Linked DNA regions of Homo sapiens: region 2 is linked to region 1. The links come from fine-mapping of genetic effects on plasma protein levels. Region 1 holds a variant in brackets. A gene starts in the other region. All regions are shown on their reverse strands.

Region 1 (6,256 bases):
GGGCAGAGGCCTTTGTCTCTGGCGCCGGCAGCCACGGCCCCCGCTGACGGCGTGGGAAACAGACCCTGTTCCACTCCGGTCTCCAGCCTTGGAATGGTTGCCTTCGTGCAGTGCAGGTCTGGAAAGTAGCAGTTTGGCACGGGACCCTAGAATTCCCCAAAAGGAGTGACTAGGGGCTGGGATTCTGGAATTTGAGTGTGGACGGTGAGGCGGGGGGTGTGGGAGATCGGAGACCCTGGTGGGCGCGGGAGCACCTGCAGGCTGGAGGCCCTCGCGCGCTCCGGCGGCAGCCTGGCAAACAGGTTCTCCATCCCCCAGGAGGACGCGGCAGAGGGCGGACGATCGCTCCACTCGCCGGGACCAGGTGCGGGGGCCCTGCCCAGCCGCTGGGGCGTGGCCAGGCTCGAAGCACCCAGGTGTCGGGGGCCGACTCTAAGCCCTGGCACCGGAAGAGAGAGGGCGGCGGATTGGACCTCCCGGCTCCAGCATTGCAACTGGGCGCTCCGTCTCCTGGTCCACGCAATGATGCTGCGGCTGCTCAGAAGCCAGGTAGCCTGCCCTGGGTGAAGCCTTCGCGCAGGTCAATGACGGGGCGGAGGGGCAGGGCGCGGTCCCCTGCATCCCCGATCTGGGGAGCGGTGGGCCCAGGGGCCATCGCCTTAGCCCCTGGCGCTGGGGCTCGGCGCCAAGTGACGGGCGGGGCTCCACCTTCCAGCCATCCGCCCGGCCCGGGAGGGCGGACGCTGCGAGACTCCCGGCCGCGCCCTCTCCTTCCTCTCCTCCCCAAGCCCTCGCTGCCAGTCCGGACAGGCTGCGCGGAGGGGAGGGCTGCCGGGCCGGATAGCCGGACGCCTGGCGTTCCAGGGGCGGCCGGATGTGGCCTGCCTTTGCGGAGGGTGCGCTCCGGCCACGAAAAGCGGACTGTGGATCTGCCACCTGCAAGCAGCTCGGGTAAGTGGGGACTGCCCCACTCAGTTGTTCCTGGGACCCAGGAACAACTCCTTCAGAACCAGGAGGTGCACCCCCAACCTCTTCTCCAGGTCTTCCTAAGGCCCTAGGAATCTCCGCCACCTCCCCAGCCATTACTCCTCCAGGAACCAAGATGCTCCTTCCGCTCCTGACCCTCCAGCCTCTCTTGTTTTACTTGAACTATCGTTTCCCATCACCACCTCTGTGGTGGATTTTGCGCCTCACAGACAGGTACTCCTGAGAAACAGGCTGGTGGAAGAGTCCAGTATCAGCGGAACTTACAGGAGGGGAGACTCGAGATTCCTTCAGGAAAGGTGTAGGAACCTGGACCACTTTCTTTTTTTTTTTTTTTTTTTTTTTTTAAGACAGGGTCCCTCTCTGTCGCGCAAGCTGGAGTGCAGTCAGCGGTGCTATCGCGGCTCATTGTGAGCTCCGGGGATCCTCCCGCCTTAGCATCCGGTGTAGCTGAGACCACAGACATGTGCCACCATGCCAAGCTAATTTTATTTATTTTTTTTTGGAGACGGAGTTTCACTCTTGTTGCCCAGGCTGGAGTGTAATGGCATGATCTCAGCTCACCGCAACTCCCGCCCCCCGGGTTCAGGCGATTCTCCTGCCTCAGCCTCCCGAGTGGCTGGGATTACAGGCATGCGCCACCATGCCCGGCTAATTTTGTATTTTAAGTAGAGACAGGGTTTCTCCACGTTGGTCAGGCTGGTCTCGAACTCCCAACCTCAGGTGATCCACCCACCTTGGCCTCCCAAAGTGCTGGGGTTACAGGTGTGAGCCACCGCGCCTGGCCCATGCCAAGCTAATTTTAAAATTTTTTTGTAAGAGTGCTCTGTTGCCCAGGCTGATCTTGAACTCCTGGGCTCAAGGGATCCTCCCATCTCAGCCTCCCAATATGCTGGGATTACAGGTGTGAGCCACAGTGCCCAGCCAAACCATGGCTATCTTGAAAACCACTTGTCTTCCAGTCCCCATGCCCCGAAATTCCAAGGCTCTCATCCCTGAAACCTAGGACTCAGGCTCTCCCTACCTCAGCCCCAGGAGTCTAAACCTTTAACTTCCTCTTTCCCTGGGACTAAGGAGTGCTGCACCCCAGGCGCCTCCCTTACCCCACATCCCTCCTCAGCCTCCCCTCCTCAGCCTCAGAGCATTTGCTAATTCGCCTTTCCTCCCCTGCAGCCATGTGGCTCCGGAGCCATCGTCAGCTCTGCCTGGCCTTCCTGCTAGTCTGTGTCCTCTCTGTAATCTTCTTCCTCCATATCCATCAAGACAGCTTTCCACATGGCCTAGGCCTGTCGATCCTGTGTCCAGACCGCCGCCTGGTGACACCCCCAGTGGCCATCTTCTGCCTGCCGGGTACTGCGATGGGCCCCAACGCCTCCTCTTCCTGTCCCCAGCACCCTGCTTCCCTCTCCGGCACCTGGACTGTCTACCCCAATGGCCGGTTTGGTAATCAGATGGGACAGTATGCCACGCTGCTGGCTCTGGCCCAGCTCAACGGCCGCCGGGCCTTTATCCTGCCTGCCATGCATGCCGCCCTGGCCCCGGTATTCCGCATCACCCTGCCCGTGCTGGCCCCAGAAGTGGACAGCCGCACGCCGTGGCGGGAGCTGCAGCTTCACGACTGGATGTCGGAGGAGTACGCGGACTTGAGAGATCCTTTCCTGAAGCTCTCTGGCTTCCCCTGCTCTTGGACTTTCTTCCACCATCTCCGGGAACAGATCCGCAGAGAGTTCACCCTGCACGACCACCTTCGGGAAGAGGCGCAGAGTGTGCTGGGTCAGCTCCGCCTGGGCCGCACAGGGGACCGCCCGCGCACCTTTGTCGGCGTCCACGTGCGCCGTGGGGACTATCTGCAGGTTATGCCTCAGCGCTGGAAGGGTGTGGTGGGCGACAGCGCCTACCTCCGGCAGGCCATGGACTGGTTCCGGGCACGGCACGAAGCCCCCGTTTTCGTGGTCACCAGCAACGGCATGGAGTGGTGTAAAGAAAACATCGACACCTCCCAGGGCGATGTGACGTTTGCTGGCGATGGACAGGAGGCTACACCGTGGAAAGACTTTGCCCTGCTCACACAGTGCAACCACACCATTATGACCATTGGCACCTTCGGCTTCTGGGCTGCCTACCTGGCTGGCGGAGACACTGTCTACCTGGCCAACTTCACCCTGCCAGACTCTGAGTTCCTGAAGATCTTTAAGCCGGAGGCGGCCTTCCTGCCCGAGTGGGTGGGCATTAATGCAGACTTGTCTCCACTCTGGACATTGGCTAAGCCTTGAGAGCCAGGGAGACTTTCTGAAGTAGCCTGATCTTTCTAGAGCCAGCAGTAC[G/A]TGGCTTCAGAGGCCTGGCATCTTCTGGAGAAGCTTGTGGTGTTCCTGAAGCAAATGGGTGCCCGTATCCAGAGTGATTCTAGTTGGGAGAGTTGGAGAGAAGGGGGACGTTTCTGGAACTGTCTGAATATTCTAGAACTAGCAAAACATCTTTTCCTGATGGCTGGCAGGCAGTTCTAGAAGCCACAGTGCCCACCTGCTCTTCCCAGCCCATATCTACAGTACTTCCAGATGGCTGCCCCCAGGAATGGGGAACTCTCCCTCTGGTCTACTCTAGAAGAGGGGTTACTTCTCCCCTGGGTCCTCCAAAGACTGAAGGAGCATATGATTGCTCCAGAGCAAGCATTCACCAAGTCCCCTTCTGTGTTTCTGGAGTGATTCTAGAGGGAGACTTGTTCTAGAGAGGACCAGGTTTGATGCCTGTGAAGAACCCTGCAGGGCCCTTATGGACAGGATGGGGTTCTGGAAATCCAGATAACTAAGGTGAAGAATCTTTTTAGTTTTTTTTTTTTTTTTTTGGAGACAGGGTCTCGCTCTGTTGCCCAGGCTGGAGTGCAGTGGCGTGATCTTGGCTCACTGCAACTTCCGCCTCCTGTGTTCAAGCGATTCTCCTGTCTCAGCCTCCTGAGTAGATGGGACTACAGGCACAGGCCATTATGCCTGGCTAATTTTTGTATTTTTAGTAGAGACAGGGTTTCACCATGTTGGCCAGGATGGTCTCGATCTCCTGACCTTGTCATCCACCTGTCTTGGCCTCCCAAAGTGCTGGGATTACTGGCATGAGCCACTGTGCCCAGCCCGGATATTTTTTTTTTAATTATTTATTTATTTATTTATTTATTGAGACGGAGTCTTGCTCTGTAGCCCAGGCCAGAGTGCAGTGGCGCGATCTCAGCTCACTGCAAGCTCTGCCTCCCGGGTTCATGCCATTCTGCCTCAGCCTCCTGAGTAGCTGGGACTACAGGCGCCCGCCACCACGCCCGGCTAATTTTTTTTGTATTTTTAGTAGAGACGGGGTTTCATCGTGTTAACCAGGATGGTCTCGATCTCCTGACCTCGTGATCTGCCCACCTCGGCCTCCCACAGTGCTGGGATTACCGGCGTGAGCCACCATGCCTGGCCCGGATAATTTTTTTTAATTTTTGTAGAGACGAGGTCTTGTGATATTGCCCAGGCTGTTCTTCAACTCCTGGGCTCAAGCAGTCCTCCCACCTTGGCCTCCCAGAATGCTGGGTTTATAGATGTGAGCCAGCACACCGGGCCAAGTGAAGAATCTAATGAATGTGCAACCTAATTGTAGCATCTAATGAATGTTCCACCATTGCTGGAAAAATTGAGATGGAAAACAAACCATCTCTAGTTGGCCAGCGTCTTGCTCTGTTCACAGTCTCTGGAAAAGCTGGGGTAGTTGGTGAGCAGAGCGGGACTCTGTCCAACAAGCCCCACAGCCCCTCAAAGACTTTTTTTTGTTTGTTTTGAGCAGACAGGCTAAAATGTGAACGTGGGGTGAGGGATCACTGCCAAAATGGTACAGCTTCTGGAGCAGAACTTTCCAGGGATCCAGGGACACTTTTTTTTAAAGCTCATAAACTGCCAAGAGCTCCATATATTGGGTGTGAGTTCAGGTTGCCTCTCACAATGAAGGAAGTTGGTCTTTGTCTGCAGGTGGGCTGCTGAGGGTCTGGGATCTGTTTTCTGGAAGTGTGCAGGTATAAACACACCCTCTGTGCTTGTGACAAACTGGCAGGTACCGTGCTCATTGCTAACCACTGTCTGTCCCTGAACTCCCAGAACCACTACATCTGGCTTTGGGCAGGTCTGAGATAAAACGATCTAAAGGTAGGCAGACCCTGGACCCAGCCTCAGATCCAGGCAGGAGCACGAGGTCTGGCCAAGGTGGACGGGGTTGTCGAGATCTCAGGAGCCCCTTGCTGTTTTTTGGAGGGTGAAAGAAGAAACCTTAAACATAGTCAGCTCTGATCACATCCCCTGTCTACTCATCCAGACCCCATGCCTGTAGGCTTATCAGGGAGTTACAGTTACAATTGTTACAGTACTGTTCCCAACTCAGCTGCCACGGGTGAGAGAGCAGGAGGTATGAATTAAAAGTCTACAGCACTAACCCGTGTCTCTGTAGCTTTTTTGGAGCCAGAGCCACTGTGTATGTGTGTGTGGGTTTGTGTGTGTGTGTGTGTGTGTGTGTGTGTAAGAGAGTGGAGGAAAAGGTGGGGTACTTCTGAAGACTTTTATTTTTTTTTAATTAATTTATTTTTTTTCAGAGATCGAGTCTTGCTCTGTGGCCCAGGCTGGAGTGCAGTAGTGTGATCTCGGCCCACTGCAAACTCCCACCTCTCGGATTCTGGTGCCTCAGCCTCCCAAGTAGCTGGGACTACAGACGTTCGCCACCATGCCCAGCTAATTTTTGTATTTTTAGTAGAGACGGGGTTTCACCATGTTAGCCAGGCTGGCCTCGAACTCCTGACCTCAGACAATCTGCCCGCCTCGGCCTCCCAAAGCGCTGGAATTACAAGCGTGAGCCACCGCGCCGGGCCCTGAGGATTTTTATTACTCGTGATTGGGAGTACTGTCCCTACTTAGATCTGACAGCCCCTTGTTGCTGGACTTGTGTGAGTTGTGGTCCCTGTTTTTCTGGTTCCCTGTTTCTATCACACAGGAGAGAGAGACCTTCCAGGACCCTAACGTCTGAGCCCCCAGTTGCTCACTCCTGGACTGTCAGTATTGGCCCCCAGTCCTCTCCTCCCACTGGGACCTCCGCGTGGGCAGAAGAGGCGGAGGAGGGAGCGGATTATCACTGAACTACATTTCCCGGAAAGCTATGAGGTTGGCAGCGTCAGTCAGCTACAGAGAAAGAGGCCCCAGGGCATTTTGGGAGTTGTAGTCTTAGGGCTAAAATGTCCACTTCGTGGCTCGACAGCCGTTTCCAAGGA
Region 2 (11,108 bases), not on the chromosome of region 1:
AGGGCTGTGTCACCTCTCTCTGTCCACCTCTGCTCAGCTCACATCAATGAGCCCCATGCACAGTGATGAGACCTAGGGCCGGCACCACGAGAGCCTATGCCCACGCCAGAAAGCTCAGAAGTGCCCTCTTCTTCATGCTCCACCAGCCACCCAGTAAATCACCAAGTCCTGCTCAGTCCATCTCCTCCTCATCCCCTAACCCAGTCCGCTTCTCCCCACACCCACTGCCACTGCCCTGGTCCTAGCCTCCAGGGGCCTCACAAGGCTCCTCTGCCTCCAGTGTCACCCTTTCTTGTCCCTCCTCCACCCAGCAGCCAGGGTGATTTTTTACAACAGACTCCTCTCTAACTCCTCTGCTGAAACTCTCCTGGTTCTCCAGTGACCTCAGGACAAAAATCCAGCTCCTTAGACATCATTTTCACCAACTTGGCCGTGGCCAAGCCATCCAGCCCCATTCGTCTTCACACCCTTCTTGACTCCTAACATTCCTGAATTCCTGAATGGATTGTTTCTCTTCTAGAAACACCCTTGTGTTTCAGACCCTACTGCTCTTCTCAGTCCCTCCTCCTGGAAGGCCCTTCCTTCCTTTTCTGCCTTCTTTGTCTTCCCACTTCTCCTCTGAGCACAATTCAAGTGCCATCTACTCTAGGGTCTCTCCCCTGAGCCTCTCCCTCTTAGAAGAGTGCTCCAGTCGCTGCCCCACCCGCTTCTTGCCTCTTTGCTCAGGGCTGAACAGAGAGCCTAGAGACCCAGGTCTGCCTGTGCCTCTTCACATTTCCTGTCAATTCACGGGGTCCAGAGCTCAGGAGGCAGCCCCCTTGGCCAAAGGGAAGGGTCTTCCTCCCTCAGGAGCCCAGGTATGCAAGAGTCAGCCAAGGGGTTGTGAATCTGAGGACTGAGGCAGGAATCTTGGGGCCACATAGGAAAACAGCTTCCTTCTATGGGGTGGCCAAAGGGTCAGGGTGGAGGACAGGCCTGGGACTGAGATCCCACGGGTCTACCCAGGCCTCAGCATGAGGCTGTCTTGGGCATCAAGGATCTGGGCTGGACAGATCTTTGGGAGAGGCTAGACTCTGCCCTGCCTGTGTTGGGCATGATGTTACCAGTTCTCTTCCTCCTCAGGGGGACTGATGCGGTCTGCCAGGTGGGCTATGTGACAGCACCTGCTAACTCCCAGGGGAGAGATGAGGGTTTAACATCGTGCTCATTTGGGGCTAAGAGGGAAGGGGCAGCTGACCACAGGCTCCTGGCCCTCTGTGTACAGAAGGAAGGCAGCTCAGAACTACAGATAAGATGGGTGCAGGCACATCCCATGGGACCTGGTCCACTACAGAGGAGAGGCCCTGGAGGTCGGGTGTGTCAGGGGCCAAAGCTGAGGGTCCCATGGGTCATGAAAGTGTTGGGGCCTCAGAACGATGGGTCTACCCTCCCCACCAGTTCAAATGCCCCTCTTTACCGTTGCTCTTCCAGATCACGTCTGTCTGCTTCTCCTTGTGCACACGTGCAGAAAGTACAGCGGTGTCACCTTTGTTCACAGTGTGTGTGACCTTGTCTGGAAGCAGGTGGGCTGCGGGGTGGAAGGTGGGTCAGCGGCCTGGTTTTCCCCGCGCCATCCCCCCGCCTGCCTAACTCACCTCCAGGGCTGTTGTGCACGTAGATGACGCGCGTGCGCCGCGCCCCAGCACCGCCCACGCAGGAGAAGACGCCCACGAGGTCCGAGGGCTTGGAGAAGCCGCGAAGCGTGACCTGGTGCGAACCGTTGCGCGCCAGGCGCAGGGGTGGCCCGGGCGGGGTGCGCACGATACGGTCGTCCTTCTCCAGCAGCAGGGGCGGGCCCCAGGCGTCCGAGCCCCTCCCCGCCCCGGCCTCCCCAGACACGCAAGTCAGGAAGAAGCGCTGGGGGTCCGTGAGCCGCAGGTTGGCCAGCAGCGTCAGGTCCACCGCCGCGCCTGGGGCCAGGACACCAGTGACTCTATTGTAGTCCCAGCCAACCCTAGTGCCCCAGAGCCCCCAGCCCCAGCCCTCTGGTCTTACTGATCCACCGTCCACTCAGAAGAGGGTCTCCAACCTTCACCCCTCTTCCTTCCCCTGCCCGGTTCTTCAGACCCCACAGGCCTCACTTTATCAGGCATTCCCATCCCCCTCCTTTCCCCTTCCATGCGCACTGGCCTCTTTCCCTCAAGTCTCTTCATTCTAAAAGAACAAAAACAAAACCACGAATCCTTCTCTGGCCGTGTCCCCTCCCTTCTCCTGCCAGATGGCTTCCCTTTCGCCCCAGCTTTCGGAAAGAATGATCTATGCTCCCTGTCTCCGTTTCCTCACTTTATTTCTATCAGTCCTGTTTCCCCACTCGTCTCTAAAACTGCCCTGCAAAGGTTGCTGTGAGCCACTTCTCCCTGCCTCCACCACGAGAGTGCAGGCCAGGAGAGCCAGCCAGAACAGAAGTGTCCCATGGGTCCCCCTCTCTGTCACTATGGAGATCTAGAAATGTCTGGTGGGCTGGGATTTGAGGTGGGAGAGGCTGAGTTTTGCAGCCAGAAGGTTGTGGCACAGAAATGGAGCTAGGGCTGGGTGCGGTGGCTCACGCCTGGAATCCCAGCACTTAAGGAGGCAGAGGTGGGAGGATCCTTTGAGCACAGGAGTTTGAGATCAGCCAGGGCAACATAGCAAGACCCCATTCTCCAGAAAAAGAAAAACAAAAAGAAATGGAGCTAAGCTTGGGGCTGGGCCCAGAGCCAGGGAGGGCAGCCCCAGGGCAAGGCCTGGAGCCCAGACAGACACAGACACGAGGTAGGTCTTGGTCTTTGTTTGCCTTCCAAAGAGCTCACGCCCTAGTTGGAGGAACAGGCATGAACACAGCTGCCAAATGTAGGGCGCTGTGCTTTTGAGCACAGAGAAGGGACCCCTGCTCCAGCCTGGGGGAGCTCAGGGAGATGAAGAGATGCTTCCTGGGAGGTACAGTTGGAGCAGGGCACATTGGCGTGAGGACAATGGGGAGGGAGAGAAATCAGGGGCAGGGAGAGGGCATCCTAGACAGAGGGAACAGCCTGGACAGAGGCCTGCAGTGGCAATATTGTGGCAGGTGGAGGGGGCTCTCCAGGTTTGTGTGACTGGAGTACAAAATGTGAGGCTGAGGCAGGAGAGATCAGGTGGAGTCAGAGTCCAGTCTGGACGGTGGAGAGCCTGCGAGCCTGCCTTAGCTCCAGGACCCAGAACCCCTCCACCAGCCAAGCCCTTCCTTCTCTGTCTCTTGTAGCTGACTGTCAAGCAGTTCATTAGTTTAAATGCCACCTAGCTTATCAGTGTTTGAAAGGCTACCATGAGCAAACGAAGCTGGCATTTACTGACCGCCCACCACATACCAACCCCCATTTTCCACTGGATCCTCACAACCAGTGAAGTGGATATTCTTTCCAGTTACAGAGGAGGATCATGGTAATTATTCTACTGGCTTCTTTGAGCAAGCTCGCCCACTCCCCCAGTTTTAACCATCACCTCTGAGTCAGTAACTCGGGAACGGTCTTTCAGCTTGGACCTGCATTTCCATCAGCTTTTCCCAAATCTGCTCCTCTCCAGTGCTCCCTGACTCACTGGACAGCACCCGCCACTTGAGACACAAACTATGGAGTCATCTCTACTCCCATTGTCATAATAATGAATGTTTATTGGCTGCCAGTTATGCACCAGGCACTTTACTGATATTGTTTCATTTTACCATCCCAGCTATCCTGGGAGGTGGATGTTATTATCCCTGTTTTATAGCCAGGAAAGGGAGGCTCAGAGAAGTTAAGTAACTTGCCCAAGGTCATACAATTAGTGAGTGGCAGGGCCAGGTTGTCTGATTCTAAAGTCCACATCTCTGAGCACTGTGCTGCCTGCCTCATCAGTCATAGAATTCTGCACATTGTTTCCTGAACGCTTCTTGACTTCATCCCCACCCCCCCAGCCTGCCTTTGTTCAGCCCTCATCCTTACTCACCTAGACCATCCCAACAGCCACAGCCCCTCCTTCTGCAACTCATCCTCCACGGTGATCTAAGACCAAACCTGACCTTGTGACTTTCTTGCCTGTGACCTCCCATGGCTCCCTATTGCCCTCAGGATAATGTTCGTGCTCCTAAGCCCCGTGATGCTCCCACGCTATCCCTCCTGTTGTGTTCCTAACAGGCACCTTCTCTCCCATGCACCTCCATGCCTCTGAGACTTGCATTTTTTATGTTCTGGCTGCCTGGAATGAAGACCACCCCTCTTAGTGAAATCTTCCTTGATTCCCTTTTTGTCTCCTACCTGAGGCAGTGTAAGCTGAACTCCTCCTCAGTGCTCCTCTAGAGCTCCTGTGTCTGTCCCTGTTTAGCCCTCTTCCCCTGTCCTGTGTTCTGCACTAGACCATGAACCACTCAAAGGCAGCCTCTGTGTTCTAATCGGCTGACCAGCAGACTGAAGGAATCAGCTGCCACCTACTCAGAAATCCTTACCAAGCACAGTGCACTGTGCCAACTGCTCTGCATCATTTTCTCATTTAAACCCCATAACAACCATAGGAGGCTGGCATCATTTAATCTCATTGTACAGACTAGGTGTTGCCAGCCTCTCAACTAATGGCCCAGCACTTAGCACAACTCCTGGAATATTGTTGGTGCTCAATAAATGTTTGTCCAGTGAACAACTGAGTGAATCCAACACAATTACCCTATGAACACCCCCTGAAAATGGCCCTCCACAGATCCTCAGATCCAACACAGTCAGCGGCTACTCCTCACTCCTCCCCTGATCCCAGGTTGCAGTGATTTCTAGCACTTGCCTGTGTTTTCCTGGCCTTGATCTCACTTTCTAGTGGATCAAAGTGATGGCAGTGATGATAGGGCTTGTTTTCCAAAATTTTTTGTTGTGGTGAAATGCATATAAAATAAATTTTACCATCTTTTTTTCTTTTTAGATGAGTCTTGCTCTGTCGCCCAGGCTGGAGTGCAGTGGCGCGATCTCAGCTCACTGCAACCTCTGCCTCCCAGATTCAAGCGATTCTCTTGCCTCAGCCTCCCAAGTAGCTGGGATTACAGGCTCCTGCCACCACGCCCGGCTAATTTTTGTATTTTTAGTAGAGATGGGGTTTCACCATGTTTGCCAGGCTGGTCTCGATCTCCTGACCCTGTGATCCACCCGCTCGGCCTCCCAAAGTGCCGGGATTACAGGCGTGAGCCACCACACCCGGCAAATTTTGCCATCTTAACCATTTGTAAGCAGCATATAACCCAATGTGATTAAATACATTCCTAGTGTTGTCCCACCATCACCACCATCCATCCTTTTTTTTTTTTTTTGAAAAAGACGAAAGTCTAAACACAATGGAGACGGGGTCTCACTATGTTGACCAGTCTGGTCTTGAACTCCTGGCCTCAATTGATCCTCCCATCTCAGCCATCCAAAGTGCTGGGATTACAGGTATGAACCACCGCACCCGGCCCCATGTTTATAACTCTTTTAATCTTGTAAAACCAAGTAAAAATCTTGTAAAAACGCTGTACCTTTTAAACAAAACTCCCCATTTCTTCCTCCCTGCAGCCCATGGCAACCATCATCCTACTTTCTGTCTCTATGATAAAATAGGGTTTCTTGGGTAGAAATCAGGGCCTCGGGGCCTAGAAATGGGGTGAGGGACTCAGGGGAGACTTACCCACATGAGAAGCCAAGAAGAGGATGGGGAGCAAGAAAGGGGGCACCCGCCAGACCATACTCCAGAGGCCGACCCAGGCCAGCCAGGACGAGCTGGGCCTGGGGTCAGATGCTGTGGGCCTGACTGCTCAGCCTGTGTTGGTCAGTGTGGGTCGGTGCTGGGGAGGAAGAGGAAATGAGGTGGCTTGGGTGGGAGGGGTGGCAGGGTAGGGGGTGGGAGGACTCATTCTGCCTTTGAGCCTCTAGGCCCCCCAATCTGGCCCCCACAAGGCTGGGGATGGGTGTGGCCTGGGAGGAGTCACTTGAGGTGGGGGGAAGGTTATGGTAAGGGCAGACCTGGGGACAGCTGGACTGATTTTTCCCATCCCCTGTCTCTCTCCAGTACTCAGTCTTGCTGGCACAAAGGAGGCAGGAGGCAGGAAAGGGAGGAAGCCAGTGGCTTCCGCCTATTGAGGAGGGGGGTGGGGTGGGGGACATTGTTCTGGGGTCTCCCCTCCCCCCGGCACAAACACACAATACGGCCCACATGAGTCCTCATGTATGTGCCCCAGGACACAGACAGTTACATGGGTTTCCTAGAGAGCAGTTCACATACGAAACACAAAGGACCTCTGTGGGCCTGAGAAGCACATACACTCAAAGGAACACAGGGCCCTGGCAACAAAGAGCCTTCGAGTCTACCTTGTGTACCTCTCTCATTGTACAGATGGGAAAACTGAGGCTTGCTGTGCTCGAGGGCACCCTGAGGCTGTGGCAAGGCTGGGACTTGAACTTCTGACTTAGTCCTTGCTTTCTTGGTGCCAATCGCTCCACAAGGGCTCACATTAAGCAGTCCCGGGGAGCACACAGGGAGTATCGGTTGCATAGATAGTCCTCAGCTTAAGCTGCTAATGAAAGCTTCAGCTTATTGTCTGCCAGGTGTCATTCATTTTGCGGCAAACCCCTGCCTATTCCTGGGCACTGGGGCAGCAGAAGTCTGCCCAGGGAGGTGCACTCACTCTTGACGGCTGACAACAACCTGGGAGCAGTCGCACTGCTTTGGCAAAGTCTCTAAAGCCCCATGGATCTTGCCTCTGCTTCCCTCCCAGACTCACCTCTCCCTGCCCTGGCACCCGTTGCTCCACCTCTTGCCACCACTGGCAGTTCCCAGAACGGAACAAGACCTGTAGGTACAGAACGCCCACGAGGAGGCCCTTCCAGGGAGCAGAGGGAGCAACCGTTGGATGGGCAGCCTTGCTGGTTAAATCGATGACCCCTCTGACCCGGAATGGAATGGTTGGGATGGATGAGACTTGGTGTCAGTTTAGGTGACTTAGGTCTGGTAGTACAAACCCTCCCCCTGGGCCTGGGACATCTTCCCAGAGTGTGTTCTGGGTGAAGGCTTCATTCTCCTCTGAATGCACCGGGCTCACATTCACTTTTCTCAGGAGGCTGGGTCCCTGCAGCTTGGTTGAGCTGGTTTAGGCCCAGGGCTCTTCTGAAGCGCCCTGAAAAGTCCCAGGAGACGCTTTGACTCCTGGAGTAGCATAGAAAAGGATCGGGAAAGACCTCCCTACTGATGTGTGACCCACAGAGATTCCCATTCCTGGGCCTGAGGCTGGGAGGAGCTTTCTCTAGACAAGGCTTTGGGTGGGATGGGAGTAGGAGCAGGGGGAGAGTGGTGGATGCCTTACACTTCAGCTCATCCTGGTGCCAGACCTTTGAATCTGGAATGAAAAAGGAGCTGGAAAGTGCTGGGACTGTTTGTATGGCAGGATTCACTTTTGTGGAACTTTTCCTTTGGTTCTTGGAAGACCTGGGGGGCCTGATGTCATTTTGCAAATGTGTGGAGAGCACTTAGGCAGCATTCATTCTTGTTGGAAGTGACACAGATATTGGCACAGGTATTTGCTTTGAATGGAAAAGTTTGAGACTGCAGGATGCTGGCACATGCAAAGATTCTGAGCCCATCTGCCCTCCCCACTCTCAACTGGGAAACAAAAACTGGTAATAATGATCTGTACATAAATAAAATGTTAATGGAGTTTGTACACAAGAATTTGTATTATAAAACAATATCCTACAAGTGTAAAAGTATTTTTACATGTGTTGAGATTATGCTGCAAGTAATTTAAATAGCATCAGTTTACAAACAATATGTCCCAAATGAAATATTACTGCACACACAAATTTTGAGTGGGTTGTGTATACATCTGCTGTTGCAGATGTATAAGACGACTTAAGCCATAATGCACATCTTGAAGTCTCAGTCACTCGAAAGTTATAGGCCAAAAATAATGCAAATATGAAGTTCTACACATTGGAGGGTTAACCTCCAAACCCAAAACAAACTGAATTGATAATGATAGAGTTAAACTCAAGGCGCCAGGTCAACTCAAGGTAATTTATTTTTTAACAGCCAAGCTCAGTGGCTCACACCCGTAATCCCAGCACTTTGGGAGGCCGAGGCGGGCATATCACTTGAGGCCAGGAGTTCGAGACCAGCCTGACCAATGTGGTGAAACCCCGTCTCTACCAAAAATACAAAAATTAGCCGGGCGTGGTGGCACGTGCCTGTAATCCCAGCTACTCAGAAGGCTGAGGTAAGAGAATCGCCTGAACCCGGGAGGTGGAAGTTGCAGTGGAGCCGAGATCGCGCCACTGCACTCCAGCCTGGGTGACAGAGCTAGACTCCCTCTCAAAAATAAAAATAAAAATAAAAAAACTCTTCCTCACTACCATACTCACTATCAGTTTGGCAGAAGTCTGGGAGTTTTATAACACACTGTCTTGGCAAGGTTGTGGGGAAATAGGCATGCTCTATATAGGCATGTTGATGTAATTCTGATGGAGGGCAACTTGGGAATATCTGTCAAATTCATGAACACACGTATCCTTGACTCACAATTGCATTCTTGGGAATTTATCCTGCAGATATACTCCCACAGTACAAAATGTCATGGTTATTCATTGTAGCATTATATGTAATGGCAGAAGATTAGGACCAATTCCTGTGTCAATCAATGGGGAAATGGTTAAATAAATTTTGATGTAGCTATACAGTAAAATATAACAGCTGTGAAATTAGTTGAAGAAACTCTCCAAGTCTATATACTGGTTTTTAAAAGCTCTCTAAGACATACTAATTAGTAAGTGATAAAAAGAAGGTACAGAAGTGTATATTGTATGTTAGCGTTTGCCTAAAAAAGAAAAAAATAGGAATATATATTCATACTGCATGTACAGGTTGAGTATCCCTTATCCAAAATGCTAGGGACAAGAAGTGTTCAGATTTCAGGTTTTCTGAATTTTGGGATATTTTCATATACATAATGAAATATCTTGGGGATAAGACCCAGGTCTAAATATGGAATTCATTTATGTTTCATGCATACCTTATACACATAGCCTGAAGGTAATTTTAAACAATATTTCATATGATATATATGACCCATCACATGAGGTCAGGTGTGGATTTTTCACCTGTGGCATCACAAAGTGTTCAAAAAGTTTCAAATTTGGGAGCATTTCAGATTTCACATTTTCGGATTGGGGTGCTCAACCTGTATTTGCACAGGGTGAATATCTGTTGTGGTATTAAGTTCCACTTTGGAGGGAGTGCTCATTTGGAAACCATTCAAAGAATTTTTAAAAAATTTTTCTTTTATGTTAGTAAAGGTCCATCCCCTGTGGCCACCCCAGCGGGTTGGACTCACTGTTCTCCAAGTGACCGTCATGATCAAGAGGGACAGGAAAGCCTGACTCTCCAAGTTCCACTCATTTCCCTTAACAGGTGGCTCAGACAACAAACTGCTTTATGCCCCTTAGAACATTCATTTGGGTCTTTTGTGTGGCTTCTTACAATGCCCTTAGGGTTTTAGACCACATGTAAATACATGTGGAAACATTTGACAGACTCTTAAAAATGTCTATGAATTTGATTTAATTTTCTCTATAGACAAACTCCATAGTCTTCTTGCAGAAATGATGCTCAGTTGAGATCCATTTGGGTGAAATTGTTATGCAAATTATGCATAAAAAAGCTGGTGAAATTCGGGACTGGATCAACAGAGGATGAGTCAGGGGGGAAAGAATGAACCTCTCTAAGTTGCTCCCCAAAAATGAAGTCAGGGCTATCTGAATTAAAGTGTCAAATTGGTACTCTTCTAAGTAACGGAGACCTCTCCCAATTAAACTTGCCAGACTGGGGTGGGTTACATGGGTGACCATGCAATTATTTTTCAAAATAGTGAGAGGCCCGGCACAGTGGCTCATGCCTGTAATCCCAGCACTTTGGGAGGTCGAGGCAGGCAGATCGCCTGAGGCCAGGAGTTCAAGACCACCCTGGCCAACATAGTGAAACCCCATGTCTACTAAAAATACAAAAAGATTAACCAGATGTGGTAGCACGCGCCTGTAGTCCCAGCTACTTGGGAGGCTGAGGCACAAGAATTGCTTGAACCCAGGAGGCAGAGGTTGCAGTGAGCTGAGATCATGCCATTGCACTCCAGCCTGGGTGACAGAGTGAGACTTTGTCTCAAAAAATAAAAAAGAATAAATAAAAGATAAACAGTGAGAGTCCCATCTTTGCTTCTTAAAGTCAAACTATTATATATAAACTATGTAAAGTCAGTATGTGAAGTAGAATGCTGCTTTGTTTTGCTCAGTGATTTTAAAGGGAAGGGGTAGTTGCAATTTTCCTCCCAAATTACATTCCTGTGTTCTCCTGAAGCATGCCCTTGTGTCTTGGCTCCTAGAATATTTTGAAAAGTATTTAAGATATTTCTTTGTTATGTGCAACTCCAAATGCTGGCATCTTTTTATATGCCAATAAGTGCCTTAACTCTCTGTACTGTTTGTCACAATTGCTTTTCGAAGAACCAAGTAAATGCTGCCCAAACAAATTAGAAAGTTTTCTTTTGGTTGAAATAAGCAACACTTTAACCCAATTCCTAAGTTCTGCCTTTGCCTGAAATTGACTTTACTGATAAATCATTCTTCATACTGATCAGCAAAGAAAGGAAAAATATCTTGTTCTTGTTGTTGTCCAAAAAAAAGAAAAGAAAAAGAAAGTAATTCTTTTAAGATTTTGTTTAGGTTAATAGTAACAATGGTTGGTACTTTCACTTAACTTCAGCAGCAACTAAAGCCACATTGTCAATTCAAAAACAGTTTTTGTTGTTCTTCCAGGAAATAACTCTGTAGTGAGAGGAAGTTTGCAGTAAATGCTTTTGGAGCATCAGGCTGAGGCTGTGTCCCTGAAGCTAGTGTGTGTGTGTGTGTGTGTGTGTGTGTGTGTGTGTGTGTGTGTGTGTGTTTTCACTCTAGTCAGAAAAGACGTGCCAGGTGTTTGTGACAAGCTGTGATGAGGACTGGAGATTACTTGGAATCCATTGTGTTCTTTTCCTTGTTGGAAAAAGAAAGCTTCTAAAAACAAGCCCTTATTTAAAGGAAGCCCCA

Alleles and levels. Positions count from the first base shown, and alleles are read on the strand shown. Strength reflects both the effect of a copy and how common the allele is.
In carriers of allele A in region 1, the plasma level of the protein whose gene starts at base 5,818 in region 2 tends to be lower than with G alone (weak association).

The links. A credible set is the group of variants that fine-mapping cannot tell apart. PIP is the posterior inclusion probability: the model's chance that the variant is causal. The UK Biobank Pharma Proteomics Project read protein levels with antibody pairs (Olink). The fine-mapping took linkage between variants from a reference panel, not from the people measured, so its PIPs are less certain.
Region 2: TIE1 starts here. The variant in region 1 is the best candidate, but not a certain one, in a credible set for the plasma level of the TIE1 protein (UK Biobank, PIP 0.62).

Annotation. Positions count from the first base shown.
Region 1 is chr19:48,747,185-48,753,440 of GRCh38, reverse strand. FUT1 (fucosyltransferase 1 (H blood group)) reads left to right here and starts at 800. Exons shown (of 2, transcript NM_001384359.1): 1 at 800-951; 2 at 2,158-5,430. The coding sequence starts at 2,160. The coding sequence ends at 3,257. RefSeq lists enhancers at 12-598, 1,804-2,443, 5,466-6,251, 6,252-6,256 and a silencer at 714-763. The variant G/A (reference allele first, on the strand shown) is at 3,309.
Region 2 is chr1:43,295,692-43,306,799 of GRCh38, reverse strand. It overlaps TIE1 (tyrosine kinase with immunoglobulin like and EGF like domains 1), which reads right to left and starts at 5,818. Exons shown (of 23, transcript NM_005424.5): 1 at 5,671-5,818; 2 at 1,635-1,949; 3 at 1,457-1,567. The coding sequence starts at 5,728. RefSeq lists an enhancer at 5,759-5,848 and a silencer at 5,879-5,978.